Linked DNA regions of Homo sapiens. The protein of the gene in region 3 interacts with the protein of the main gene of each other region in a pairwise test. Each region holds a gene or a part of one and is shown on either strand. Other genes may lie near its edges. The genes, in order: HGF, ALPP, ADAMTSL4 and LGALS14.

What was found.
Region 1: the proteins of ADAMTSL4 (region 3) and HGF interact in binary tests that used the Homo sapiens proteins (3 or more experiments, as listed by UniProt).
Region 2: the proteins of ADAMTSL4 (region 3) and ALPP interact in binary tests that used the Homo sapiens proteins (3 or more experiments, as listed by UniProt).
Region 4: the proteins of ADAMTSL4 (region 3) and LGALS14 interact in binary tests that used the Homo sapiens proteins (3 or more experiments, as listed by UniProt).

Annotation. Positions count from the first base shown.
Region 1 is NC_000007.14:81,767,030-81,774,592, reverse strand, and holds the start of HGF (hepatocyte growth factor isoform 1 preproprotein), read left to right. Parts: upstream 1-4,545; 5' UTR 4,546-4,621; coding exon 4,622-4,709; intron 4,710-7,563. UniProt on the Homo sapiens protein: Potent mitogen for mature parenchymal hepatocyte cells, seems to be a hepatotrophic factor, and acts as a growth factor for a broad spectrum of tissues and cell types.
Region 2 is NC_000002.12:232,374,037-232,381,751, forward strand, and holds the start of ALPP (alkaline phosphatase, placental type preproprotein), read left to right. Parts: upstream 1-4,714; 5' UTR 4,715-4,766; coding exon 4,767-4,842; intron 4,843-4,908; exon of another isoform or gene 4,909-4,934; coding exon 4,935-5,051; intron 5,052-5,163; coding exon 5,164-5,279; intron 5,280-5,476; coding exon 5,477-5,651; intron 5,652-5,727; coding exon 5,728-5,900; intron 5,901-6,149; coding exon 6,150-6,284; intron 6,285-6,383; coding exon 6,384-6,456; intron 6,457-6,586; coding exon 6,587-6,721; intron 6,722-6,803; coding exon 6,804-6,995; intron 6,996-7,214; coding exon 7,215-7,331; intron 7,332-7,460; coding exon 7,461-7,715. UniProt on the Homo sapiens protein: Alkaline phosphatase that can hydrolyze various phosphate compounds.
Region 3 is NC_000001.11:150,544,793-150,552,414, forward strand, and holds the start of ADAMTSL4 (ADAMTS-like protein 4 isoform 1 precursor), read left to right. Parts: upstream 1-4,615; 5' UTR 4,616-4,707; intron 4,708-5,029; 5' UTR 5,030-5,103; exon of another isoform or gene 5,104-5,484; intron 5,485-5,497; coding exon of another isoform or gene 5,498-6,268; exon of another isoform or gene 6,269-6,484; coding exon of another isoform or gene 6,485-6,499; exon of another isoform or gene 6,500-7,412; coding exon of another isoform or gene 7,413-7,496; coding exon 7,497-7,516; intron 7,517-7,622. Other genes in the region: uncharacterized protein LOC124904417, read left to right, coding at 5,498-6,268. UniProt on the Homo sapiens protein: Positive regulation of apoptosis. May facilitate FBN1 microfibril biogenesis.
Region 4 is NC_000019.10:39,700,263-39,707,492, forward strand, and holds the start of LGALS14 (placental protein 13-like), read left to right. Parts: upstream 1-4,218; 5' UTR 4,219-4,266; coding exon 4,267-4,281; intron 4,282-5,442; exon of another isoform or gene 5,443-5,645; coding exon of another isoform or gene 5,646-5,747; intron 5,748-6,334; coding exon 6,335-6,411; intron 6,412-6,915; coding exon 6,916-7,126; intron 7,127-7,230.

The DNA.
Region 1 (7,563 bases), on a different chromosome or scaffold from region 3:
CACGTACGTTCTTACAAGCATCACTTGTGGAGAAACCTGGGCTTAAGACAAAGAAAGATACCGTGTTAAAGCAGCAGCCTTTTAAAGAGCACAGTAATAGAGGCTTTTCCATTAAATCCATCTAGTATCCATGAGATACTAGAACCCTCAATCATAGGACAGATTTAAAATGGTATTATAGGGTAATGAGTATCCATCTAGTATTTAAGTATTTACATAAATTGCAGTACTTAAAGTAATCTCTTTACAAGTTATTTTATCAAAAACTTTTCAGACACAATTTTTTGGGGATTTATTCAAACTGTTTAACACTTAAGAAGTACTGGCTTACCTTGGAGATACTGCTCGTTTGGTTTCAGACCACTGTGATCAAGCAAAAATCGCAATAAAGCAAGTTACATGAATTTTTTTTTCGTTTCCCAGTGCATATAAAAGTTACACAGCAGACTATTAAGTGTGCAACAGCATTATGTTTAAAAATGTCCATACCTTAACTTAAAAATACTTTATTGTTAAAAAATGCTAACGATCATATAAGCCTTCAGCGAGTGATAATCTTTTTGCTGATGGAGGGTCTTGCTTGATGTTCAGAGCCTTGCTGTGGCTTTGGCTTAAGGCTTAAGGGAATATTGCAGCTGGTTTGATCTTCTATCTAGACTGCTCAAATTTTCTGCATATCAGCAATAAGGCTGCTCTGCTCTCTTATCATTTGTGTGTTCACTGGAGTAGCACTTCTAACTTGCTTCAAGAACTTTTCTTTTGCATTTGCAACTCGGATAACTGGTGCAAGAGGACTGGCTTTTGACCTAACTCATCTTTGGGCATGCCTTTCCCCAAAAGCTTAATTTATTTCTAGCTTTTGATTTCAAGGAAGAGACGCGCAACTCTTCCTTTCACTTGAGTACTTAGAGGTCATTGCAGGGCTATCAATTGGCCTAATTTCAATAATGTTGTGTTTTAGGAAATAGAGAAGCCTGAGGGGAGGGAGAGAGACGGGTGAACAGCTCGTCAGTGGAGTAGTCAGAATACACACATGAATGGATTAAGTTTGGGTTGTGGTTTGTGGTGCCCAAAACAATTATGGCAGTAACATCAAAGATCACTGATCACAGATCATCATGTAAAATAATAAGGAAATATTTGAAATATTGCAAGAATTACCAAAATGTGACACGGAGACACAAAGTGAGCACATGCTGTGGGAAAAACGGCACCAACAGACTTGCTCAATTCGAGGACACCACAAAACTTAATTTGTAAAAACACATTATCTGTGAAGTACAATAAAGTGAAGGGCAATAAAATGATGTATGCCTATGTAAGGCAATCAGTAGATGATGGGAAAAAAACATTGCATGATTTAGAAAAAACAAAGAGAATATGTTATCAAAATGACTAAACTAATAGCATAATTAGAATTTCATTTGAGTATTTCTTTATAGTTTTGAGAGATTTAAAATTATGTATTATTTTATAAATTATTATGGAGGATCTCCTATATACCCAGTCTCAGACTTATTTTGGTGATTATACTCTGGAACATGTGATTCTTCTCCTCGTGGGGTTAAAAAAATTTATACCATCCTATGGGGTATGACTAATCTGAATCTCACACTTGAATATTACTTTGGGATCTTAGGCAAGTTATTTAAGAATAAAAATAACTTACTATGTTTCCTCAACTATAAAATGAGAATTTTAATAATCTTAAACTTACTGTAAGGATGAAATAATTTTCAATAGTATGTAATATGATGCTTAGCATACATTAAGATCTCAGTGTATATTAGCAACAATTTCAGTAAAGAAAGACCAAATAATTTTTGTCAAGAAATATGAATATATAAATTATATAGGTTTTAAGTTGTATTTACCATATTTAATGTGACAGTAAAAAAAGTCACGAAAATGTGTGACCTAATAAGTTTATTCAGTTTTCTAATGTCCTGAACCCCTTATCTCAGATGGATTTTGCTCCAAACTTATAACAATAATTTACAACCCTGACTCTAGTTTTTTTTTCTGAGAGAAAAAAATAAATAGAAACACTGTTCTTTTTCTTTCCTTACCTACAGGAATTTACTTACAGAAAAATCTAACTTCTTTTAAAAACAGCCTTAATCCCTTGTTGGGCCAAGGGAAAACTTTTCCATTGTTCTCTGAAGGTTTGCTAAAAAAAAAATTACTGTCAAGAGGCAGATCAATAGAAGAAAAGGCATACACATTTATTTGATCATAATTTTACACAACCCGAGAGCCTTTAGAACAAAGACCCAAAGTTACAAAAGAAATTGTCCATTTTTATGCTTAGGTTCAACAAAGTGTGGGCAGGTGTGGAGAAATACAACTGGACAAAAGGAATATGATCTCATGCTAACAGACTGAGTGGGGACGCCTGGCAAGGTGAGATTCTTCCTGGTATCTCTGTGCAGTACTCATTCCTTCTGGGTATGGGGCAGGACCTTCTTTGGAATGGGGTCTTATGAGCTACGATCAAACAAGGTAGGTCAGATAATGTCTTTATGGCCAGATTTCACACAGAAAGTTGAGGTGTTAGAGTGATATGCTTAGGTTTTATGGCTGGTTTGGGAAAAAGGGTTCTGGTTTCTAGGAGCCACCTTGGGAAAGAGGGATTCTAGTTTCTATGCCTCGCCTTGGGGGAGAATGAAGGGCCGGAGACTGGAGAGCAGGAGAAGGTCAGAGAGAGCTGATTCTGAGGTCTTCATTTGGGGTATCATTTTTCTGAGCCCCTACACCCTAATAAAGCACAAGAGATGCAGTGGAGCAATTCAGGGTCACGGTCAGGCTATGCATTGAACTGAGATTTCCCAAAAAGTCTACTGAACAGTAAAAAGAAAGTAAAATGGATCCTGGGGACACCAGACAGAGGCTGACAAATGATTTTTAAGTAAGGAGAAAATGATAAAAGAGAAGGATTAGCAATAGAAACGGGTCATATAAAATAGATCCCTCAAAAGGAATTCTCTTAATCCCTAGCTTCTCTAGATATCCCACAACCTCAGGGACTTATCAGGCAGGTTGTTTTTCCCTGAAAGTGGGGGTAAGGGAGCTGGAGGACAAATGAAGGTGGTATGTGGAGGGAAGGCTGTTCTGTGGATGAGTTTAATTCAGCCCCACAATCACTTCTGTACAGCTACCCACCGCTCTAGTCATTCCCACATTTGGCCTGCTTTCTTTTCCTCTGTGGACAGGGGCACTGTTCTCTACTAATATCCATCTCAGAGAGATACAGGGGCAAGTATCCCTCAGCATCCATTAGAAATAAAGCAGGCTCTTGCTTAAAGTTACCAGAGCATCCACCTCTGGGTGCAAAGACAAATTCTCTGAATCAAGTGAGGGGTCTGGGCAATGATCTCACAAGGATTTGATACCTAGGAGTCCCCCCATGCCCATACAAGCTCCTCATCTTTCCACTTACACTTTGGGAAGCTGGCTGTCGTGTACAGGCAGATGAAGCTGGAAAAGAGAGGCATATTCAGTACTCACGAATTCAAACAGCTTGAGGGATTTCCGGTGAAAGTCAGTCCTAACCAGTGTATACGTACATACACACCAACATGTGTGAATGTGTTGTGTGCACGTGTGTGCCTGTACAAGTCCACATGGCATATTTACCTGTCAGGGACAGGCTATGGACAATGACTGTTTCTTGGACTTTCTCTTAAAAAGTCAGATCAGACAAGTTTATTTTGTATACTTTGGGTAAATGTGTGGTATTTCGTGAGTTTGGCAGTTTGTGAAAAAAAAAAAAAAAAAAAAAAAAAAAAAAAGCTGCCTGCTCTGAGCCCATGGGGCAGGGGCAATTTTTTCATCTGACAATCTGCGTGCTTTTGTTTTGCTTGCTTATTTTGGCCCCACAATACCACACCCTTTTCTTAACTAACCTCTTTCTACCTGGGCTGGACGTGCCTGGGCTCTCCTCCCTGGCCCCGCTCCCACCTCTCCCAGGTCTCTAAACCCCTAGAGAACCTGTGTCAGTGTTTTGAATCCCTCAGTTGCTCTAGCAGGAAAACTAGACAGATTAGGAGCTGGGGCACATTTGGCTGAAAGACAGCTCTTCGCTTTCTTCTTATGCTGCTTCCCCTTCCTCTTTTCCCAAATAGATATATAAACACATGTATTTTCCTGTTTAAATTGAGCGAATTGGTCCCCTGCCTGTGCCTTGATTTAGCCATTGGGCTCAGCCTTGCTCCTCCCTTCCTTACTCGGATAGGAGCCACTGGGATCTGGAGCTCCAGCTTCCAAATTGAAGCTGGCCTCAGGCCAGGTGACCTTTTCTTTGTAAGTTTCTTTCCTAAGCGTGGGGTTGGGGGGAGGCGGGGAATGGGGGGGGTTGCAGGGATCTGTTTGGTGCTGTTGAAGGGGGGGCGAGTGAGGAAAGGAGGGGGCTGGAAGAGAGTAAAGGGCTGTTGTTAAACAGTTTCTTACCGTAAGAGGGAGTTCAGACCTAGATCTTTCCAGTTAATCACACAACAAACTTAGCTCATCGCAATAAAAAGCAGCTCAGAGCCGACTGGCTCTTTTAGGCACTGACTCCGAACAGGATTCTTTCACCCAGGCATCTCCTCCAGAGGGATCCGCCAGCCCGTCCAGCAGCACCATGTGGGTGACCAAACTCCTGCCAGCCCTGCTGCTGCAGCATGTCCTCCTGCATCTCCTCCTGCTCCCCATCGCCATCCCCTATGCAGGTTAGTTCCCTTCTTCTTCTTCATTATTAGTATTAGTATTTAACTCTCCTGCTAACCTTCCCTATTCCTTTTAACACCCTCTTTTTACCCTATTCCCAGCATCCTTTCTGAACTCAGTATGTAGTATAGGTTTCTAAAAGCTCTCATTATGCTTTTTTTGACATTCTTTTTTGTTGTTGTTTGAATAGCATTTAAAATGATAATTAACTTTCCCTCAACTCCCCTCCACCTCCAACCCAAGCCCCGTCCCACTTAGCCTAATAGTTGTGGATTATGAGATAGGGAGGAAGTGCTAATACTGGCTGAACTTGGCTGCTTTGGACAAGTTTAAAGCTAAAGAGAGGGTCTGGTCTGAAGAGGCAAGAGTGATGGTCAGTCCGGCAGGAAGTCATCCTTTTCCAGAGAACAATTTTTCATGATAATGCACTACTCCACATCACCTAGTCAACATTTGGAGCCAAATTACGACTTTGTACAGGTTTTCATTTTGAGGAGGCAGAATAAACTCTGAGTATTTGCATATCATAAAAATGAAAGAGAAAGCCTCTTTTTAAAGATCTTATTCTTTCTGGGTACGGATGCCTGCCCTTTGAAACTGCAGTGCACGGAGACTTTGATTAAAGCTGCAGAACTGCCCATCTCTGTCTCCCACTTTCTCCCTTGGATTTGCCGTTTGGGGAGGAGTTGCTTGAAAGTTCATATTGCTTGGAGATTTAGAGATCTCGTTTGCTGCTCTGGGAAGTTTCTCTTGTTATCAGGGCAAGAGGAAACATCTGTATTTTGTTGTATCATTGTAGAGGCTGAGGTGCCAACGGGAGAAGGCAGTGAATATCAAGGGTAGGCGCAGGGGAATAAAAGAGTGGGAACAAATGCCCAGATGGAGACATGGCCTTTTTACAATATAAAAAAGAGAACTGGCTGTATCTTTTGAGATGGTAAATATGACATTTATCAGACCTTTGATCTAGTTTTTGATATGGTACAAGGGTTAAAAAACTCAAGAATTTTCTAAATGCAAAGGAAAATCATTCAACCCACCTGGTTTTCTTTTATTTTGTGAAGTGGCCCGTTTGGAAAATGACACTGTTTGGAAAGGGTCACTCTGAAAGCATTTAGGTAAGATTTCTGAAGAAGTGAAAAAGCAGTGAGTTCAAATCAAGCAGGTTATCATGCTTGACATGTGTCATGTTAAAATCGCTTCACAGGGTCGGGTGCGGTGGCTCACGCCTGTAATCCCAGCACTTTGGGAGGCCGAGGCGGGCAGATCACGAGGTCAGGAGATTGAGACCATCCTAGCTAACAAGGTGAAACCCTGTCTCTACTAAAAATACAAAAAATTAGCCAGGCGTGGTGGCAGGCACCTGTAGTCCCACCTACTTGGGAGGCTGAGGCAGGAGACTCTCTTGAACCTGGGAGGTGGGGGTTGCAGTGAGCCGAGATTGTGTCACCGCACTTCAGCCTGGGGAACGGAGCAAGACTCCATCTCAAGAAGAAGAAGAAAAAAATGCTTCACAGATGACTGCTGGTTTAGGGGATTTTGAGCTTAAATTGAAATAATGGCTAATATTTTGAGGGTTTTCATTTTTAAAGATTAAAATGTCACTGTTCTTAAGTAGAATCTGGTTACCTGAATTCATCTGTGCTAACGCAAGGGGAACGCAGTGTGGAAAACCCAAACAGTAGATCAACCGTAGGCAGTGTCTATTTGTTTTCGGCATGCATTATGAACTTTTGGCAGGAGACATACATTTGTAATTATATTTCACTTTGCCTAATGTAGAAATGACTGTGTTTCCTGAGTACAGGCAGAATGCAGCCCAAGAGTGCTGGCAGGCAAGGAGAGTCCAGTTGGGAATTACAAATATGCTGTGAATAATTCCTGAAGTGGATAATTCTAAAATTGTCATCAAAGGAGGGTGCGCCTTTGTTTAGATGGCCAGTTTGATAGTTTTTTTTAATAACCTTTAAAATAAAAAATATGGGTAGCCTCTTAGAACACACAAAGTTTGTTCTTTTTTAAATGACATTTAATATTGACTATTTAGAGGTTTCTTTTGTTGTTACTAGCTTTGATTATAATTATTTATTCTATGAATTTATATTTGTATGTATTGTAAAATAACACATTGTTAGGAAAGAAGTATATACTGTAAGTTGACAACCAGTTATCAACAGAATACACTATGGAGATACTTTTTTAAAAGCTTAAGAAATATTCAATATAATGGGCCCCCGCCATCTTTGTAGGAGTTAGCCTATATAGAATTACCCTCTATTCACTCCCACCTACATGGGAAACAAATATCCAATCCTCTGTAATAAAAGAAGCATTAAATGAGCACCTAATATTCAAGAGTATGTGGGGGATGTAAAGATGAACAAATAAGAAAGGAACTTAAATTTGTTGAGCAACTGATATGAACCAAGTAGTAAAGTACATCTCACTTAATTCTAATAAGATTGGCACTATTGGACTCATTTAGCCGGTTCAAAGACCTCAGTTATCTTATTTCTTTGTGAGTTAAGGGACAGAGCTGAGATTTCTACCCAAATGTATGTGAATGAACTATGTGGTGTTTTTTTTTTTTCTTTTTTCATTTATATTGAAGCGAGCAGCAGTGAAATCAACTGAAATTTACTTAAAAAAAATCATTTGGCCAAGTGATATATTTTCAAAAAACCCTGTTAGAAATACTTTGTACTATGGTTGAGAGTTCATTTTCAGCATAGAGAATCAAACCAGGTGAAGGGGTTATATGGTACTGAAGTCCATATGAAAAGATGGATGGTAGAATAGTCAGTATCTTAGCACAGGATCACAAGTGGCCCAAGGTACAGAGGTTCGTAAGTATAA
Region 2 (7,715 bases), on a different chromosome or scaffold from region 3:
AGACTTACAAACAGAAGCTATGTCTGGGTCTCAGGTGGCAGTGAGACAAGATGGTAGCTTTACCCCCCAAGACCAAGGGCCACAGGGGAGGGGTGACCTCAAAGGGATGTGTAGGACAATTGAAATATGATAACATCAAAGTTGTTTTGTCCTAAGGGCAGGATTTATGGGAAGTAGGTGCTCCCGCACTAGAAACACGACATGAATGGGAAATCTCAGAGGCCCTCCGAGAACTGGCATTCATCAACCTGGTAGATCAGGCCCCAAGATGGAATTGCCTTGACACCCACACCACCTGAAATAATCTGGAGTACTGTTGGCAGCTGATGTGAGACTTTGGTTCTTGTCTTCTTAGCTTAAAATAATTTAAACAAGAGACACAACAGCAAAGGAGATGCAGCATACAATAATTTTTGCAAAAGAAAAAGAACATCTTGAAAGTGAAGTGCAGAATAGGCAGAGAGAAGAATTCAGGGCAGGCTGCTCATAAAGATGAGACAGCAAAAGTTGGCACTAGGGAGGCTCCCTTTATGGAAATCTTACATGATTATTCATGAGGGGTTGGGAAGAGGTGTTGCTAGTAAGCATGTTCTGGCCAAAAGCTATTAAAAGAAAAGGAGTGTCAAAAAATTTAGGCCGTGCTGGGGGTGGAGGCTCACACCTGTAATCACAGCACTTTGGGAGGAGAGGCTTAAGCCCAGGACTTCCAGACCAGCCTGGGCAACATGGTGAAACCCCATCTCTACCAAAAATGCAAAAATTAAATGGGCAAGGTGGCACACACCTGTAGTCCCCACTACTCGGGAGGCTGAGGTGGAAGAATCTCTTGGGCCCAGGAGGTTAAGGCTGCAGTGAGCCGTGATTGCCCCACTGCACTCCATCCTGGGCTACGGAGCAAGACTCTGTCTCAAAAAACAAAGTCAATGGTTCCCTTTGGTGGGGAAGGAAGAAGTGGGGTTTGAATGGGGGGCAGGGTACATATGGGGAGATCCTGGCTGTAGTCAATTTCTTGATCTGAGTGGTATTACTTTGGCGTTCAATTCTGTAACTCTTCTTTAGGCCATATCTTTCTGTTTTCTGCAGTTTTAATGTTTGACATATCTCAAAAGGAAAGAAAGAAAAGGAAGGAACAAGCTTGCCATTTGATCCAGATTAGATGCAACTGTTCCAGCTGCGTTTTCCATTTTCATCTCAGCCAGTATTTTTCAAAATGTGACATGCACGTATTTCCAAAGGGCGGTACTGAAACAGGATAGGTAATCAAGGAAGTGACCGTGTTCTTGGGATGCAGCAAGCGTGGTGACCGCACAGTCAACACAATAAGCCTCAGCATTCGAATTGTAATTGAGCTCATTCAAGCAAAGCTATCTTCAGTGGGGACTTTTCTTTCTAGAGAGCATGCGCATTTTGATTTTACCTATCCTCAAACTGACCCTTTGCTCATTATAATAGTAAAAAGCGCACCCCGGGTGGAGATTTAAGAAGCTAATGAGACCTGCGACATACGAGCCAGCATGTACAGCTACTCACGCCTGTAATCCCAGCGCTTTGGGAGGCCGAGGTGGGCAGATCACTTGAGGTCAGGAGTTCGAGACCAGCCTGGCCGACATTGTGAAAACCCATCTCCGCTAAAACTACAAAAATCAGCCAGGCGCAGTGGCTTACGCCTGTAATCCCAACACTGTGGAAGGCCAAGGCAGGTGGATAGCCTGAGGTCAGGAGTTCGAGACCAGCTTGGCCAACATGGTGAAACCCCATCTCCGCTAAAAATACAAAATGAGTCAGGTGTGGTAGCAGGTGCCTGTAATCCCAGCTACTCGGGAGGCTGAGGTGGGAGAATCCCTTGAACCTGGGAGGCGGAGCAGTGAGCAGAGATCTCACCAGTGCACTCCAACCTGGGCGACAGAGCGAGATTCCGTCTCTAAAACAAGTAAATAAACAAAAATAAAAAAATAAAAATACAAAAACTAGCTGGGCGTGCTGGCGGGCGCCTGTAATCCCAGCTACTCAAGAGGCTGAGGCAGGAGAATCGCTTGAACCTGGGAGGTGGAGGTTGCAGTGAGCTGAGATTGCGCCACTGCACTCCAGCCTGGGGGACAGAGTGGGACTCCATCTCAAAAAAATAAAAATAAATAAATAAATTAATTAATTAATTAATAAAATAAAATAGAAACAGGGTCTTGCTATGTTGCTCACTATGTGGTGAATTTTTTCAGGTGCTGAGCAAGACTGGAGACCAGACACACACCAATGTCACTTGCAGTAAACAAAGGATATTTGTCCACATTCAAAGTCTATGGTGACACCCTGGCCACATGGGGATGCTTGGCCACCCTGCCTCCTACCTTCATGCCAGAGTCGCCTGTCATAATGTCTGGTTACAGCCCTTCCTCTGAGGTCCAGGGATTTCAAAGCAGAAGCAGCAGGTCTTCCCCGGCTGGAGGAAGAGCCAAAGCCTCCATTCCTGGGATTCTTGGTTGCTGTTACCTGGGGCAAGGGGAGGCCCAGGCTGTGGCGTGTATTCTCAGAGGATTGGTCGTCTTGGTCCTTCTGTTTCCTGGGAAGGAAGGGCTGGTCCTGTAGGGCCCCATCTAGATCCCTTAGCACCCTCTACCACCTGATGCCCTTGGGGATACCAAGCTCTGTGCAGTCCAGACCATGTTCCAGCTCAGTGCCCACCTTACAGGCATGCGCCACCATGCCTGGCTAATTTTGTATTTTTTAGTAGAGATGGGGATTATCCATGTTGGTAAGGCTGGTCTTGAACTCCCGACCTCAGGTGATCCACCTGTCTTGGCCTCCCAAAGTGGCCGGGCAGGGCTGAATTCGCCCCCTCACCAGCTACTGCCAACCACGGATGAATGGCTTCTGCCTGCCTCCTGCCCTCCAGATCTTACCAGGGCATTTCACTGGGAAATATGGCAACAGCCCTTGCCACTCAGGGGACAGCATGGCAGGGGCTGGGAACGAATGTTGTTGCCAAACGACAAGACCCAGCTGGGCCCAGTGGCTCACACTTGTGATCCCAGTGGTCTGAGAGGCTGAGGCAGGAGGATCACTTGAAGCCAGGAGTTTGAGAGCAGCCTGGGCAACACAGTGAGACTCTACAAAACAAAACAAAAAAAATTAGCCAGGCATGGTGGCTGGTGCCAATAAGCCCAGCTACTGGGGAGGCTGAGGCTAAGGCTGAGGCAGTGAGCCATGATCATGCCACCGCAGTCCAGCCTGGTGACAAATGAGACCCTGCCTCAAAAAAAAAAAAAAAAAAAAAAGAGGAAGGTGAGCGCAGTGGCTCATGTCTGTAAATCCAGACACTTTGGGAGGCTGAGGTGGAGGTTCGAGACCAGCCTGGGCAACATAGCAAAACCATGTCTTTACACAAAATAAAAAATGAGTCAGGTGTGGTGGCACATGCCATTGGTGCCAGCTACGTGAGAGGCTGAGGTGGGAAGATTGCTTGAGCCTGGGAGGTCCGAAGCTGCAGGGAGCCGTAACTCAGGCATCACACTCCAACCTGGCTGACAGAATGGGACCCTGTCTCCAAAACCAAAAGATTCCAGCTCGAAAAATAATTGTGGGGTGGCGGCAAAAGCTCCTGACTGGCCTTGACTTTAGAGTGAATCAATGAATTAATTAAGGGCCTGCCTGTTAGTGAGTCTCCTCTGAAATTTAGCCCAGAAATTTCCTAACTCAGCAAGATGAAGCAGGAGGTAGAAGGAACTAAGGGGGCAATAAGCAGGAGGAAGGAATGTCCCCATGAGGGTGACATCTTCCCTGAGAGCCCCAGGACGACCAGCAGGAAGCCAGGCGGGGGGCAGGCAGGAGGACTCCAGAAAGCTCGGCCTGAGGGGAGGCCCGTGGGGGTGGTGGGGAGTGGTGCGGGGAAGGCAGAGGCTGAGCAGCAGGTGAGGTCCCCTGGGTTTTGGGGGCCAAGCCTGGGGCTCGGGGCGAGCAAGCATGAGTGGAGAAGGGGCTGCTGTGGTTGGGCTGGGGTGGACTCCCCACCTGCGTCGTCCAAACATTAGTGTGAGTGCACCCACACAAACACATACACAATCACACACAACATGTGAGCAATGGGCAGGACTGGTCCGGCCCCACTCAGTGCTGTCACCATTGGCCCCACAGCTGCCCACAGCCCTAGAGCTCTGGGCCCAGATTCCTGCCAGCCCCACCTGTCCAGGCCAAGGTAAGATGATGGAGCAAGGGGGTGCCAGGGCAGCAAAGCCCCCCACGTGCCCCTTTCCCACAGGGCCCAGGCTCCTGGCATCAGGAGGCTGAACCCAGGCCCTGGCCCAGACTGTGTGCTTCCAGCCTCCCCTCCTCTCGACACCAGAACACAGCCTGGCCCCAGCTTCTGGGAAATATAGAAAAAAATGGGTGAATGATCCAGTGACAGGGTGTCTTGTTCCACACAAGACACAGTGAGCAGGGGTTGGGGGAGGGGCTCCTGGCTGCGGGAGGCACACCACACTCACCCAAATGGCATCTGTACTCAATACCGCACCCTTCCCTGGGGGACACCTGGTCCCAACCTGAGCTGCCTTTCTCAGGACCCCAGCCCCAGCCCGGCCCAGCCCAGCCACACCCTGCCACTCCCTTCAGCCAGTGTGGCTTCAGGTCAAGAGGCTGGGCAGGGTCAAGGTGGCAACGAGGGGAGAAGCCGGGACACAGTTCTCCCTGATTTAAACCCGGGCAGCCTGGAGTGCAGCTCATACTCCATGCCCAGAATTCCTGCCTCGCCACTGTCCTGCTGCCCTCCAGACATGCTGGGGCCCTGCATGCTGCTGCTGCTGCTGCTGCTGGGCCTGAGGCTACAGCTCTCCCTGGGCATCATCCCAGGTAATGAGGCTCCCCGAGCTGCCCCTACACAACACACACACAGGGCACCCCCCAGCCCAGGCTGACCTGATTTTTGCTCTCCCCCTGGCCAGTTGAGGAGGAGAACCCGGACTTCTGGAACCGCGAGGCAGCCGAGGCCCTGGGTGCCGCCAAGAAGCTGCAGCCTGCACAGACAGCCGCCAAGAACCTCATCATCTTCCTGGGCGATGGTGAGTGAGCCAGGCCTTCCAGCCCTGCAGCCCTCACAGCCCCGGCGCCCGGACCCTCAGTGGTTCCAGGAGAGCCCTGGGGCCCAAGCCTCACACATTTCTGTTCCTTCAGGGATGGGGGTGTCTACGGTGACAGCTGCCAGGATCCTAAAAGGGCAGAAGAAGGACAAACTGGGGCCTGAGATACCCCTGGCCATGGACCGCTTCCCATATGTGGCTCTGTCCAAGGTAAGTGCTGGGCTACCTTAGAGTCCTCCAAGCACAGAAGGGGAATCCTGGCTATGGAGTGTGGTAGGAGGGAGGGACCCTAAACAGCTGGGGCTCCAGTAAGGAGTTAGAGGCAGTTGGAATCCCAGAGGACAGAGATCAGGGTCTGGGTCTCCGTGTCTGCCCCAGAGAAGAGCTCAGAGTGTCTCTGTCCCCAGACATACAATGTAGACAAACATGTGCCAGACAGTGGAGCCACAGCCACGGCCTACCTGTGCGGGGTCAAGGGCAACTTCCAGACCATTGGCTTGAGTGCAGCCGCCCGCTTTAACCAGTGCAACACGACACGCGGCAACGAGGTCATCTCCGTGATGAATCGGGCCAAGAAAGCAGGTGAGCTGGGGCCCGCTGCTGGGTCACGGCCAGGTCACAGACGTTGGTCACATATACTGACCTCTGACACCCTTAGGGAAGTCAGTGGGAGTGGTAACCACCACACGAGTGCAGCACGCCTCGCCAGCCGGCACCTACGCCCACACGGTGAACCGCAACTGGTACTCGGACGCCGACGTGCCTGCCTCCGCCCGCCAGGAGGGGTGCCAGGACATCGCTACGCAGCTCATCTCCAACATGGACATTGACGTGCGACCCCCAGGCCAAGGGCTGGGGCTGGGCAGAGAGTAGCAGGGAGGGGGCACTAGCTCAGACCCAGGCAACCAAAAGCCTTATCTGGGCCAGCAGGGTCTGGAGGTGGGGTTGTGGGCGTAGAAGGTGCAGCCCAGGCTGGGCCATTCCCACAGCCTTGGGGAGGGGAGTCAGGGGCTGTGCATGAGGAGGGGGCACGGGGCCAGCCAGGGCCCCAAATCCACCTGCCCCATCCTCTGTTCCCAGGTGATCCTAGGTGGAGGCCGAAAGTACATGTTTCGCATGGGAACCCCAGACCCTGAGTACCCAGATGACTACAGCCAAGGTGGGACCAGGCTGGACGGGAAGAATCTGGTGCAGGAATGGCTGGCGAAGCGCCAGGTGATGGGGGCTGGCGGGTGCAGGGGGCACAGCAGGGGGAGGGCAGAGGTGTGGGGCTCAGGGCTGTGGGCTGAGGCCTGGCTCTCTCCCTCCCCACAGGGTGCCCGGTATGTGTGGAACCGCACTGAGCTCATGCAGGCTTCCCTGGACCCGTCTGTGACCCATCTCATGGGTAATGACCCCCTTCCTGCCCTGGCATCCCTCAGATGGCCTCAGATGGCACCTTCTGAGCCTGTGTGCACATCCGCCAGCACCCGCCCACCCCCAGCCTGCCAGTCACCACAGGACCCCTTGTCCCACAGGTCTCTTTGAGCCTGGAGACATGAAATACGAGATCCACCGAGACTCCACACTGGACCCCTCCCTGATGGAGATGACAGAGGCTGCCCTGCGCCTGCTGAGCAGGAACCCCCGCGGCTTCTTCCTCTTCGTGGAGGGTGCGTGGTGGCCCCTGGGGAGTGGGGGTTGGGGGTTGGAGCAGGGCAGGCTCAGCATCTCCCCCCTCTGGCCTTCCTGCAGGTGGTCGCATCGACCATGGTCATCATGAAAGCAGGGCTTACCGGGCACTGACTGAGACGATCATGTTCGACGACGCCATTGAGAGGGCGGGCCAGCTCACCAGCGAGGAGGACACGCTGAGCCTCGTCACTGCCGACCACTCCCACGTCTTCTCCTTCGGAGGCTACCCCCTGCGAGGGAGCTCCATCTTCGGTAGGCCTGGGGAGAGTGGCAGGTGCTGCTGCAGCAATTAAGTGGGTGAAATCTGAGCCTCAGTCTCCTCCTCTGTCAAATGGGAGTAATGCTGGCACCAGCCCTGTAGGGTCTCCTGAGGACTAAGCCCCTGACCAGGCAAAACGTGGCGGTGCCTAGCACGTGGGAGACACTCCACAGCTGTGTTCAGCTCAACCACAGGGACCCCTCTCTCTGCAGGGCTGGCCCCTGGCAAGGCCCGGGACAGGAAGGCCTACACGGTCCTCCTATACGGAAACGGTCCAGGCTATGTGCTCAAGGACGGCGCCCGGCCGGATGTTACCGAGAGCGAGAGCGGTGAGTGCCGCGGGGTGGCCCCCTGAGGGGGACCAGGGTGCCAAGGATGGGGGGCTGGCGGGAAGGGGTCACCTCCTGTCTGCCTGGAACTGAATGAACCCTCCTACCGGAACTGAACCCTCCAACCAGGGAGCCCCGAGTATCGGCAGCAGTCAGCAGTGCCCCTGGACGAAGAGACCCACGCAGGCGAGGACGTGGCGGTGTTCGCGCGCGGCCCGCAGGCGCACCTGGTTCACGGCGTGCAGGAGCAGACCTTCATAGCGCACGTCATGGCCTTCGCCGCCTGCCTGGAGCCCTACACCGCCTGCGACCTGGCGCCCCCCGCCGGCACCACCGACGCCGCGCACCCGGGGCGGTCCGTGGTCCCCGCGTTGCTTCCTCTGC
Region 3 (7,622 bases):
TTCACCATGTTGGCCAGACTGGTCTCAAACTTCTGACCTCAGCGATCTGCCCACTTCGGCCTCCCAAAGTGCTGGGATTACAGGCTGGATGAACATCTACTTATTACATAATCTTTTTAAAAACGTCTCTCTTTTTTTTTTTTTTTTTTTTTTGAGACGGAGTTTCACTCTTGTTGCCCAGGCTGGAGAGCAATGGTGCAATCTGAGCTCACCGCAACCTCCGCCTCCCAGATTCAAGTGATTCTCCTGCCTCAGCCTCCCAAGTAGCTGGGATTACAGACATGCGCCACCACGCCTGGCTACTTTTCTATTTTTAGTAGAGACAGGGTTGGTCAGGCTGGTGTTGGACTCCCAACCTCAGGTAATCCGCCCACCTCAGCCTCCCAAAGTGCTGGGATTACAGGTGTGAGCCACAGTGCCCGGCCTTAAAAACTTCTTTTTAAAAATTATTTATGTATTTGTTTATTTTTGAGACAGGGTCTTGCTATGTTGCCCAGGCTGGTGTCAAATTCCTGGGCTTAAGCAATCTACCCACCTCAGCCTCCCAAAGTGCTGGGATTACAGGTGTGAGACACCGCACCCAGCCTAAAAACTTTTTATCCTGGAGACAGTGTCCACAAACTTAATCTGGTATTTCACAAGTTGCTGAGGCATAGGAAACTCTTTTCTTTCTACAATATTTTCAGACCACCAAGCCATGAGAGGTGACAGCAGTAGCAAATCTCATGAGCTCTTCGGTGAGCAGCCATTTCTTAGTGGAAAGGACTGTATCTGACCTTCAGTTCTCAGCAGTTACAAATGTCAAAGGCAGACCTTTTCTCTCCTCCCAGGCTCCCCTCCCACACTCCTGTCCTGCAGCTTCCCTCCCTGTAGATAAGTGAATGCTGATGAGGTGTGACTGGGCCAGGACTGAAGGGTCCCTGGCCCAAAATATCTTCCTCTGCCCGGAAGGCTGGGCTTCTCATCATCTATATCATACTCTGAGGTCTGGGGAAAGGGGCTTCCCCTTCAAAGCTAGCACTATAAATATGTCTCCAGGTTGTCACCAGGAGTCCCTAGATAAACCACCCCTCTGGGAGGGGCATTAACCTTTTATCTTCTCAACCCATGTAGGAACTCAGGACTCAGATGGAGGATGAGGAGAGGCACCTCCCAGAGGCGCAGGTCAATCTGACCCGCTTCATGTTTCGTGGTGTACTTCGTGTTTTCAAGTTGTTGTTGTTGTTTCAGTGACTTATCAAAAAAACAAAACTCTAATATAAAATAGGAAAAAGTATAGATGATACAAAGTAGCATAAATAGTCCTTTATTCTGAAAGAACTTAGTGATTTACCGAGAAAAAATATGCATGTTAAATTTCAAATAATGATACAATTCTTTTTCTCCTTTCTTTTTTCTTCTTCTTTTTTTTTTTTTAGATATGGGGTCTTGCCATGTTGCCCAGGCTGGACTTGAACTCTTGGCCTCAAGTGATCCTCCCACTTCAGCCTCCCGAATCGCCAGGACTACAGGTGCCTGCAATTGTACCCAGCTCGGGACACAATTCTTACATTTTCTTTTCTTTTCTTTATTTTTTTGAGGCAGAGTCTCGCTCTGTCACCTAAGCTGGAGTGCAGTGGCATGATCTCAGCTCAATGCAACCTCCGCCTGCCAGGTTCAAGCAATTCTCCCTGTCTCAGCCTCCTGAGTAGCTGGGATTACAAACGCCCACCACCACACCCGGCTAATTTTTGTATTTTTAGTAGAGATGGGGTTTCGCCATGTTGGCTAGGCTGGTCTTGAACTCCTGACCTCAGATGATCCGCCCGCCTTGGCCTCCGAAGGTGCTGGGATTGCAGGCATGAGCCACCGCGCCCGGCCCAATTCCTACATTTTGAAAGCATTTTACGTTTTCATATCCATCATCTTCTTAGAGATAACATCTCCTTCAGCTGAGCCCAGTATTAACCTTCGCATGACCCCATTACCTGCCGTGTCTGTGCCTGATCAGACCCAACTCCTTGAGGCCAGAGACTTCTTGCTGCTTCTTCAACACCAAGTGCAAAAGGCGCCCAAAAAATGACAGGTGGGGAACCAAAGACCTCTGATATTTTGTGAGGATGCAGGACAATGTTGTTAGAGCTTCTATTTTTGTGTTTTAGTTTTTCAAGAGAAATTTTAAAATATCCAGGTTTTAAAATACGTATTGACAAGTTATTTAAAAAAAAAAAATGTGCCTTTAGGTTGGGCCCAGTGGCTCACACATGTAATCCCGGCATTTTAGGAGCCCAAGGAAGGAGGATTTCTTGAGCCCAGGAGTTTGAAACTAGCCTGTCTTAAAAACAAAAAACAAACAAACAAAAACCTTTAAAACACTGAGTAGACCCAACAAAATACAACGCGTCAGTAAATAGAAAGTAAAAATATAGGCCGGGAGCAGTGGCTCATGTCTGTAATCCCAGCACTTTGGGAGGCTGAGGCGGACGGATCATGAGGTCAGGAGTTCGAGACCAGCCTGGCCAACATGGTGAAACCCCATCTCTACTAAAGATACAAAAAATTAGCCAGGCGTGGTGGCTCGTGCCTGCAATCCCACCTACTCAGGAGGCTGAGGCAGGAGAATGGCTTGAACCCAGGAGGCAGAGGTTGCAGTGAGCTGAGATGGCGCCATTGCACTCCAGCCTGGGTGACAGGACAAGACTCCTTCTCAAAAAAAAAAAAGTAAAATATAAAAATAGCAGTGACCATTTATTGTCTACTCTATGCCAGCCATTTTACATATTTTATTTATTTATGTGTTTATTTTTTGAGACGAGGTCTCTCTCTGTCGCAGGGGCTGGAGTGCAGTGGCACGATCATAGTTCACTGCAGCCTCAAACTCCTGGGCTCAAGCAATCCTCCCCGCTCAGCCTCCTGAGTAGCTAGGACTACAGGCTTTCACCACCATGCCCAGCTTACATATATTATTTATAATAAATAATAGCCAGGCGCGGTGGCTCACGCCTATAATCCCAGAACTTTGGGAGGCCGAGGCAGGAGGATCACTTGAGGTCGGGAGTTGGAGGCTAGCCTGACTAACATGGAGAAATCCCGTCTCTACTAAAAAATATAAAATAAGCCAGGCATGGTGGCGCATGCCTCTAATCCCAGCTACTTGGGAGGCTGAGGCAGGAGAATCACTTGAACCTGGGAGGCGGAGGTTGCAGTGAGCCGAGATCGCGCCACTGCACTCCAGCCTGGGCAACAAGAGTGAAACTCCATCTCAAAAAAAAAAAGAAAAAAAAAAGATAAAACTAATAGATGGATTGCTCTTGTGGTTAAAAAAATTCACAAAAATAACATTACATAGCTGGGTGCGGTGGCTCACGCCTGTAATCCCAGCACTTTGGGAGGCCGAGGCGGACGGATCACGAGGTCAGGAGATCGAGACCATTCTGGCTAACACGATGAAACCCCGTCTCTACTAAAAATACAAAAAATTAGCCGGGCGTGGTGGCAGACGCCTGTAGTCCCAGCTACTCAGGAGGCTAGGGCAGGAGAATGGCGTGAACCTGGGAGGCGGAGCTTGCAGTGAGCCAAGATAGCACCACTGCACTCCAGCCTGGACGACAGAGTGAGACTCCGTCTCAAAAAAAATAAATAAATAATAATATAATAATAATAAACATAACGCAGAGTAAAAAGCAAAAGCCTTTTTCAGTCCTCCCCCAACCCTGCATCCCTCCCCAGATGTCACCAATACTACTGAGTTTGGGGTGCATTCTTCCATGTATAAATGCATAAAGAGACATATCCAAGCCCATCATATATATTAGATTAGTCCCATTTTGCAGATGAGCAAACTGCACCACACAGGGGTGGAAGTATTCGTCGAAGACCACATAGCTGGCAAGAGCTGGAGCTGAGGTTCAAATCCAGATCAGTCTGACTCAGAAGTCAGCACGCTGTCCTTTCGCTGAGTCCCGAGTGTAAAACCTTACTGAGGAAAAAAACCGAAGCTCATAGAAGTCCCAGCAATCTGAACCACCACTGCCCAACACGGGAGAGGCAGGAGTGACTGAGTTTGCAGGGGAGGCTGCGTGGAGGGGAGAGCCTGGACCCACGCGGATCGGGGGCCGCGGGTACCTCCGTCCAGGGCGCTTCCCTCCCGGACCAGCGGCTCTCCCAGGCCGCCTCGCTCCAGGCGCCCCTGGAGGCTGCCCCGCCTGTGCCGCGCCGCGCCGCGCCGTGTTCGCACCGCTCACCCGAGCGGCTCGGAGGCCCGGGTTGCTTAAGTCCCTAGTCTCAGCCGGGCACGAGGACAGCGCCCGGGAGCGACTGCAGCCTCTGACCCCGGCTGGGCCAGCCCGGGCTGCTTAAGTCCCTAGTCTCGGCCGGGCACGAGGACAGCGCCCGGGAGCGACTGCAGCCTCCGACCCCGGCTGGGCCAGCCCGGGCTTCAGCTCACGCAGCCGTCGGGGGGCGCCCGGCGCGCAGCCCGGGGTGGGTGGTCCTGGCGAGTGGGGCTGCGAGGCAGACCGGCCCCACCCCGGGGCCGCCGAGGGGCGCGGGCTGGGGCGCGTGGCGGGCGGGGCTGGGCGGGGGCGGGCGCGAGGGCGGAGTTGCGGCCGAGGCGGCCGTGACCGGAGCGCGGCTCAGGGGCCCCAGTGGCCGCCGCGGAGCGAGGTTGCCTGGAGAGAGCGCCTGGGCGCAGAAGGGTTAACGGGCCACCGGGGGCTCGCAGAGCAGGTAGAGACCTCCCCGGGACCCCGGCCCCGGCCGCCCCTCTCCCGGGTCCCGTTAGACCGCCCGCCCCGCGCGCCCGCGTCGTCCCCTCTCCCTGCGCTGTGCGGTCGCGACCCCGCCACGACCCCGGACCCAGCTCCGGTGGCCTCGGACAATCTTCCAGCCCCTGGGGTCGAATTCCTGGGGAGGGAGTCTGATCCCGTGGAACTCTGGCCCCATCACCCGGGCGGGGAGTGAACCAAAATTCCTCCTAAGTCACATAGTAAAGTTGGAAAACAGACCCATGACCTCCCCGCGCGGCCGGTGCCTCCTGCCCTCTCTCTAGGAGGGTGCTCTCGGACGGTGTGTCCCCCACTGCACTCCTGAACTTGGAGGACAGGGTCGCCGCGAGGGACGCAGGTGGGTGCCCTTGATCCAGCTCAGCCCGATGGCAGAAGAGGTTGACAAAAAAGAAAGACACCTGTTGGGGTGGCCTGCCAGACCCAGGAGTGGAGGGCTCTGAGGGCCCGGGAATTCGGACTCAGGACAGGGATTCTCCATGGCTAGGCCCAGAAACACAGGGTCCAACCACTCTCCAGCAGGGAGACCTGGGGGTGAAGGGGTGAGCCCTGCGCAGGTCTCTGTTCCTTGGTCTTCACTGGGCAGTGTGGAGAGGTGTGGCCAGGAGGAGCCCGCGTTTGTCCAGACCAGGGTCTACTCTGGCACCAGAGTGACCACCTCTGACCTCTCCTTTCCTCGTCCTGGGCCGGGAACGACACCAAATGAGGGACATGGAAAGGGGTGAGAAGCATAAATGTGCGTGTGTTTCTGCAGAGGAGGGGGCATGGGCCCCTGCCGGGCTGCGCAGGGGAGGGTGGGGTGGGACTTTTCCAGAGAGGGAGCCAGGCCTGGCCCGGGCCCCGGGAGCTCACGTCACCCCCACCCCTCACTTCTCCAGGGAACTGCCAAAGCCAAACCCAGCTCGGGATGGGATTATGTGTACTGGGTAGACCCGTGGAGAGGGGCTGCGAGAAGAGATCTCGGTGGCAGAGAGAAGCAGAGGCAGAGAGGGCATGAAGAGGGGTCGGCATCAGAGAAGGGGCAGGCAGTGACTATCACCCCATTTCTTCTTCCCTCAGCTGGAGTAACAAGAGTCAGGCAGAGCCTGAAGACTTGGGTGGAACATGGGCCCTTCTCTGGAGATCCTGGCCTCCCCCGTTCAGTCAGGGTGGAGTTGCTGACCTTAGTGGCCGGCCCAGCCAGGGGAAGGAGTGGCCATCGGCAACCCCCACCCCAACCCCAATCCCTGAGGCGCCCGCTCTGGCTCAGCCACTCTGACCCCTCCCTCAAATTCCGAACCCTAGGTCTCAGGGAGGGCAGTGGGGCTGAGTGTCTGCCCCCAGGCACATTCCTACCCTTCTCTTGGTCATTTTCTGCCCCAGAGCTGGCCCACCTCAGCAATGCGAGGGCTCCCTGGATTCCTCTCCCGGGTGCCTTTCAGATCCAACAGAAACAGATTTTTTTTTTCCTGGAAAGCAGAACTAAGAGTGGGATGAGGAGCAGGGGTGGGAAGGACTCAAAGTGAGAAGAAGGGGGCAAAGAGAGTCAGGCTTGGTGGCTGGGGTGGCTTCCAAGCCTCACTTCTCCAGTGTTCAAAGCTGAACTTCAGATGGACTTCCCGGCTCTTCAGAATGAGAGGCCTGTGGCTGGGGCATGAGGCAGCCCCGGCTGCACCTCTCCTTCCCGCTTCCCCAGCTGGTAGAGACGCACAGGAAACAAGCCCTCACTGAACCAACTCCAGATGCTGGCACCCAGAGTGGGTGTTACATTGCCGGCTTCTTCTCTAGAGATTAAACCGTCAACCCATTTAGCTTATCCCTTGGCCAAAAAGTGTATGAGATGTGCCTGGATGTTCCCTAAAGAGCTTATCTAAGAAGGGAAGAGAAAGCCGGGAGGCAAGTAGGACAGAGAGATGACTGGGGAAGGTCTTGTGTCTGGAAGACCCAAGGAAGGGGCTTCTGGTGGGTCCTCAGAGAGAGTGTCTGGCGCATCCTCAGTGGAGCCTTCCTCCTCTACTTTCTAGGCACCTCTGGGAGGGCAGGAGTGGGAGCAGATGACAACCATTTTAGAAGGAGCCCTCTGGCTGGGTGCGGTGGCTCACACCTGTCATCCCAGCACTTTGGGAGGCCAAGGCAGGAGAAGCGCTTGAGGCCTGGAGTTCAAGACCAGCCTGTGCAATTTAGCTGGATCCCATCTCCACCAAAAAATACCAAAATTAGCTGGGTGTGGTGGTGCACGCATGTAGTCCCACCTACTCAGGAGGCTGAGGAAGGAGAGCCTGTGAGTTTGAGGCTGCAATGAGCTTTGGTGGCACCACTGCCCTCCAGCCTGGATGACAGAGTGAGATCTCCATCTCAAAAAAAAAAAAAAAGCCTTTTGTGTGTGCCTGAGCCGGCTTAGAAACAGTCCCTAGGTAGGATTTGGGGAGGAGCTAAGAAGCCCCTACAGGGCCCAGAGGTGGGGACTGAGCCTTAGTTGGAGGGCTGAGGTCAGCCCCTGACCATGTAGCCTCTACAGATGGACAAGGCAGTGATCCTCCCTGCTCCCACCCTGAGGATCCTAAAGGGATGGACCAGTTTCACCCCCTCCTCCATATTCTCTGAGCTGTCCTCCCAGCCCCAAGCTCTCTGGACACTGGAGAGGTAACCACCAGGCTTCTGTCCCTGCAGAGAGCACCCTCCACGCCCAGATGCCTGCGTAGTTTTTGTGACCAGTCCGCTCCTGCCTCCCCCTGGGGCAGTAGAGGGGGAGCGATGGAGAACTGGACTGGCAGGTGAGAGAAGGGGCCACGGGTTGGGGGGGAGGAAAAGGGGAGGTGCTGGGATGGCTCTGTGTCTGGAAGTGAGGGAAAGGGGACCACTGGGAGGGGCAGGGGAAGT
Region 4 (7,230 bases), on a different chromosome or scaffold from region 3:
AACACTGCTTAAAAAAGTAGAGAAGACCCAAACAAATGGAAAAACATTCCATGCTCACAGATAGCAAGAATAACTATCATTAAAACAACCACATTGCCCAAAGAAATGTACAGATTCAATGGTATTCCTATTGAACTATCAATAACATTCTTCACAGAATTAGAACAATCTATTTTAAAATGAATATTTTAAATATTAATTGAACCGAGTGGGTTGAATAAAAGATATTCCAAAGCAAAAAGAACAAAGCTAGAAGCATCACATTACCCAACTTCAAGCTGCACTATAGGGCCAGAGTAACCTAACAGCATAGTACTTGCATAAAAACAGACACATAGACCAATGGAACAGAAAAGAGAGGCAAGAAGTAAGGTCCCACACCTACAGCAATCTGATCTTTGACAAAGTTGACCAAACAAGCAATGGAAATAATTTTTGGATAACTAGCTAGCCACGTGCAGATGATTGAACCTGAACCACTTTCTTGCGTTATATAGAAAAATCAACTGAAGATGGGTTAAAGACTTAAATGTAAAACCCAAAACTATAAAAACCCTGGAAGTCTACCTAGGCAGTACCATACCGAATGTAGAAATAGGCAAAAGATTCCTGACAAAGATGCCAAAAGCAATCACAAGAAAAGCAAAAATTGACAAATGGATCTATTTAAACTAAAGAGCTTCTGCACAGCAACAGAACCTATCAACAGAGTCAACTGACAACCTACAGAATAGGAGAAAATATTTGCAAATTATGTATCTGAAAATTGTCTAATATCTAGCTTCTATAAGGAACTTTAACAACTTTACAAGAAAAGAACAAACAACCCCATAAAAAAGTGGGCAAAGGGCTGGGTGCAGTGGCTCACGCTTGTAATTCCAGCACTTTGGGTGGCTAAGGTAGGTGGATTGCTTGAGTCCAGAAGTTCAAGACCAGCTTTGGCAACACGGCAAAACCCTATCTCTATGAAAAATAGAAAAATTAGCTGAGTCTTGTCTCAGGCACCTGTAATCTCAGGGACTCAGGAAGGTGAGCTGGGAGGATCGCCTGAGCCCAGGCAGAGGTTGCAGTGAGACGAGATTTCACCACTGCACTTCAGCCTGGGTGTCAGACCAGGCTGTCTCAAAAAAAGTAGACAAAGAACAGGAACAGATACTTCTTAAAAGAAGACATACATGTGGCCAACGAGCATATGAAAAGAAGCTCAACAGCCCTGAACGTTAGAAAAATGCAAATCAAAACCACCATGGGATACCATCTCTCACCAGTCAGAATGGCTAGTATTCAAAAGTCAAAAAATAACAGAAACTGGCAAGTTTGTGAAGAAAAGGGAACACTTACACATTTTTGGTGGCAGTGTAAATTAGTTTAATCATTGTGGAAAGAAATGTGATGGTTCCTCGAATGGCTAAAATAGAACTACCATTCAACCCAGCTATCCCATCACTGAGTATATACCCAGAAGAATATAAATCATTCTACCATAAAAACGTGCACATGAATGTTTATTACAACAGTATGCACAATAGCAAAAACATGGACTCAACCTAATAGCTCATAAAGGACAGACTGGATAGAGAAAATGTGGTACATATACACCATAGAATACTATGCAGCCTCAAAAAAGAATGAGATTATGACTTTTGCAGGAACATGGATGGAGTTGGAGGTCATTAACCTTAGTGAACCAATGTGGAAATGAAAAACAAAATACTGCATGTTCTCACTTAGAAGTGTGAGCTAAATGATGAGGCCCATGGATACCAAGAGGGAAACAACACACACTGAGACCTACTTAAGGGTGGAGGGTAAAAGGTGAGACAGGAGCAGAAAAAATAACTATTGGGTACTAGGCTTAGTACCTGGATGTGAAATAATCTTTACCGCAAACCCCATGACACGAGTTTCCCTGCATATGTACCCCTGAACATAAAATAAACGTTTAAAAAACAAAGAAAAAAACCAATGTCACCTTTCTTCTGGAATCTGCAGGAGAAACAGTGTCTCTGAAACTTTGATTCACATGGACATCAAGAGAAAGGAGAGAGTATTGCTAGAGTCCAGGTGTGGGACAGACAGATGAGAGCAGCCCTCACCTGGTAGAGCCAAAGGGCTTAGCATGGGGCAGGTTCATGCAAGGACGTTCTCTACCTCCCCCCCGGATCATCCTGAGGATCAAGGGCAGTGCTGTCCCAGAATCTTTAAAGGCAAAAAGAACAATTTAAAGGCAGAATGTATGATCTGTAGGTGTCTCTTTCCAATAAGTGTGGGGAAGAGGAATACAGACTACGGGGGTACTGGTCCCTTAGGTGAGGTCTGCACAGCTGGTATGCAGTACCAGCTACTCAGGATACTGAGCTGGGAGGATCACCTGAGCCCAGGAGCCAGAGGTTGCAGTGAGCCAAGATGGAGCCACACCACTCCAGCCTGAATGTCAGAGTGAGACCTGTCTTAAAACAACAACAAAAGGCGAGAAAAGACAAGAACAGAGAACAGATACTTTTCTTTTCTTTTCTTTTCTTTTTTTTTTGAGATGAAGTCTCACTCTGTCCCCCAGGCTGGAATGCAGTGGCATGATCTTGGCTCACTGCAAGCTCTCCCTCCCGCATTCATGCCATTCTCCTGCCTCAGCCTCCTGAGTAGCTGGGACTATAGGCGCCCGCCACCGGCCCGGCTAATATTTTGTATTTTTAGTAGAGACAGGGGACGCTTCTCAAAAGTACACATACAGGTGGCCAACAAGTATATAATAAAAGCTCAATATCACTGAACATTAGAGAAATGCAAATCAAAACTACAATGAGATACCATCTCACACCAGTCAGAATGGCTCTTCTTAAAAAGTCAAAAAAGGACAGATGCTGGCAAGGGTGTGGAGAAAAAGGAGCACTTACAGATTATTGGCGGTGGTGTAAATTAGCTCACCCATTGTGGAAAGCAGTGTGGTGATTCCTCAAAGAGCTTATAACAGAACTACCATTAAACCCCGCAATCCCATTACTGGGAATGGTGTATACACTACTGTATACACAGAAGAATAGAAATTATTCTGCCTTAAAGACATATGCATATGAATGTTCATTGCAACACTGTGCACAATAGCAAAGACACAGAATGAACCCAAATGCCATCAAGGACAGATTGGATACAGATAATGTGATACATATACACAATGGAATACTATGAAGCCCTAAAAAAGAATGAGTTCATGTCTTTTGCAGGAACATGGATGGAGCTGGAGGCCATTATTTTTAGCAAACTAATGCAGGAACAGAAAACCAAATACTGCATGTTCTCACTTATAATTGTGAACTAAATGATGAGACTCATGGACACCAATAGGGGAACAACACACACAGAAGCCTACTTGAGGTTGGAGGGTGAAAGGTGAGATAGGAGCAGAGAAAATAACTATTGGGTACTACGCTTAGTACCCAGGTGAAGAAATCATATGTACCACAAACCTCATGACATGACTTTATCTGCATATGTACCCCTGAACCTATAATAAAAGTAAAAAAAAAGAAAAAAGAAAAAAAATCTCATCTTTCTCCCAGAATCTGCAGGAGAAACAATATCTCTGAAACTTTGTTTTACATGGACTCCAAGACAAAGCAGAGAATGCAGCTAGAGCCCAGGTATGTGACAGACAGATGAGAGTGACCCTCACCTGGCAGATCCAAGGGGCCTAGTGTGAGGCAGGTTCATGCAAGAACTATCTCTACTTCTCTTCCCAGATCCTCCTGAGGATCAAGGTCAAAAGGATCTGACCCTTAAAGGCCCTCCCAGAACCTTTAAAGGCAAAGAGAAGAATTACCTTCTAGGTCTAACGTCTTTTTCCAAAATTCCCAATTTTTTATTTTTAGTCATTGTACAAATTGAGGAAATGTACACCTTCTGGCTAGATTCTGCATACTGGAGAAAAAGCTTGAGAGGCACAAAGGCTGGGCTTTACAATCCCTACCCCTCACTCCATCATCCTTATCTATGCATTTCCCTGGTAACCCAATCCACAGCCTGGTACCTCCCCCACTGTCATTTCTGCTGCATTACAGACACAGACCTGCAAACATCTATGGTTGTGACAGAGTTTCTTTCTGACACCTGAGTCTTTCTCCTGCTGCACGGAAAGCTTGCTGGGAGGGGCTTGGAATCTGGCATGAAGCCAAAGGGCATCTCTGAGTTGCAGCATTTAAATGATCCCACTCAGAGATTCACACAGAAGACTGGACACAATTCCGAAGAGCTGCCCAGAAGGAGAGAACAATGTCATCACTACCCGTGAGTTGAAAAGTCACAGCCTTCAATAATCTCAAGTCACATAAACCAAGAAAGAAACAGGGGAGGTTTTCTGAGTTGAAAATATGAGCATTCCTACTGTGAATGCATTACCGAGAGTTGTGGGTGTGTAGAAGAGAAACCCTGAGGCTGTGGTATCTGAGATGATTGTGGGTGTAGGCTGTGGACCCTGGACCAGTGTAACCCTCTGTGAGGGTGTGGTGGTGTCTGATGAGAGTGAACTCTGCTGAGATTAAGTGACTTTAGGTGGGAGGTGGATGACCCACCAGGACCGGCAAGTGTGTGAGTGAGTGTAAGGGGGTGAGTGTGCTTTGTCTTCCTGTCTGTGATGTGAGTGTGTGTGGGCACAGCCAGACCAGTGCATGGTCATCTTTATGTGCACAGTGAGCAGGTGTGTGTAACTCAGTGAGTGGCATGGCTCTGTGTGACTATGGGTGTGTGTGCTGGGATGTGACTGGGTATTGAAGGGAAAACATGCACGTGGCCTTCTGTGCATGTGAAGGTTCCTCCCCACACAGCAGCACCTCTGATGAAGCACCTGTGTGTCTTTTCATGTGTGGCAATGTGGATCCCAAGTGGCTTAACTGGTGGGGATCTTGGGGATTGTGAGTTACCAAGGACTCGTTTCAGATCACTTATGAGAGCGAAATATATCATCAGTAGATATCTCTTCCCAGTAAGAGTGAGGAAAAGGAACGCAGATTATGGGAGAGATGGTTCCTCAGGTGGGGACTGCACAGAGTGATCACTGGCTTTTGCCTCCCAGGCTCAGCTTCCCTGTCGCTAGCCCAGCCTGTTCTTCCCATTGTGGAACAGGCGAGTGTGAAGATACTGATTTGCCAGGGAAGAATATTAGAGGCCGTGGTTAAAGAGACGGAATCAAACAAAATATCCACTGTAAGCTCTGTCTGAACTGAGACTAAACTTGTTCCTCCACTCATGAAAGAACAAGCTGTCTGAATTCAGACAGTGCTTACTGTGGACATTACTCAACAAAGCAGCTGGGTTCACTGGTTCATGACTATAATCCCACCAATTTGGGAGGCAAAGATGGGAGGGTAACTTGAGGCCAGAAATTTGAGACCGGTCTAGGCATCATAGTGATATGCTTTCTTTAAAAATCTTTAAATATCTGACTGGCAGAGTGGCAGACACCTTTCACCCCAGCTACACAAGAGGGGGCAGATGTGTGAGGATCACTGCAGTCCAGGAGTTCGATGTTTCAGTGAGCTGTGATTGCACCACTGCATATCAGCCTGGGTGACAGAGCAAGACCCTATCTCAAAAATACAGAAAAATCATCAACCACTTGCAGTCGTCGTAGAAATCAATCATTCCCTCCAGTTATGTCCCTGACCCACAGGCTTCATTTGTGCAAGTACTGGGGCTGTGCTGTCAGTAATGTGTGCCGCTTCTGGGAAGGACGTCCATTGCCCTTGATGATTGTGGTGCGTGTACATCCCACACACAGGGGTTTCCTGTTCTTTCGTCATTTCCCTTTCTCTTTCAACAAGTGTTGTTTCTCACTGGAGTGAATTTTTAAATTCTTTCACCCTCAAGTCTTGTTTTCATTTTCTGAGTTGAAAATAAGGCAGGTCAGTGTTTCAGGAGGACTCCCCTGTTCTGTTAGGTCACCCCTAATTGACCCTATACATGCCAGGGATTAGGGTAAAAGTTTTACCTATATTAACTCCTCTATTACTGAGAACACCCTACAAAGTAGGAATTCCTGATAGTCCTCCTTGTCCTGGGGAAACTGAGGCAGGGAGAGGTTAAGTAATAGATCTAAGATTGCACTGCTAGTATAAGGCAAAATGAGGACTGGAATCCAGGCATCCGGGCTCTTGAACAATTGCTCTTACCTATGGATCCACCATATCTTCAGGAATATGGGGCCCTGACTGTGGTAGGGTGAAAGGGGAGAGGCCTCAGAGTCTGACCTTTGATCTCTAACCTCCTGCACCATGGGAATCTGTTACATAGGGGAGGTTACACCTTACCCTTTAGCTCTCACTCACTCTCCATACCCTGGCAGGTACCATACACACTGCCTGTTTCCTTGCCTGTTGGTTCGTGCGTGATAATCACAGGGACACCGATCCTCACTTTTGTGTGAGTACTCCATGGTCCAATGGAGGGGGTGGAGGAGAGAAGGGAGAATATTTGCTAAGGGTTTAACCTTATGTGTGAGTGATGTGGAAAACTCTAGTTGGCATAATGAAGGCCTCATGCAAGTGCAGGCCCTGGAGACCTTCCAGCAACAGACATGAGACCTGTAGAAACTGCATGCAGGCCAGCCACGGAACCTAGGGGAGGAGAACACTCAGTGGGTTTGGGTTGTGGCTCTTTATTAAAGGGCATAGAATTTTCAGGAAATGAACAAGTCATAGGCCCATGTCACTGACTGGCGCTCAGTTTTTGTCTGGGGATGAGGAACACAGCATCTCCCTGCCTGGGGGCATGAGGAGCTAAAGCGTCCCCACAGGGACCAGGACTGCAGTATCATCGGGGAGACTTTTTGCCCTGGGTAAAGGGGGGAAGGGATTTGTGTGTGTGGCGAGTGTGTGTCTGCACAATGGGGGGACCTGCCCAACATGCTGTGTGCTTTGACCTCAGCAAGGACCCACAGCTGGAGGTGAATTTCTACACTGGGATGGATGAGGACTCAGATATTGCTTTCCAATTCCGACTGCACTTTGGTCATCCTGCAATCATGAACAGTTGTGTGTTTGGCATATGGAGATATGAGGAGAAATGCTACTATTTACCCTTTGAAGATGGCAAACCATTTGAGCTGTGCATCTATGTGCGTCACAAGGAATACAAGGTGAGTACTTCAGGATCTTCCAGCGCTGGAGCTCTGTGGGCTCTTAGAGCAGGAGGCAGCTTTCATTGACCTGGTGCCACCAGTCCCTTGGGGCCCATCTTCCA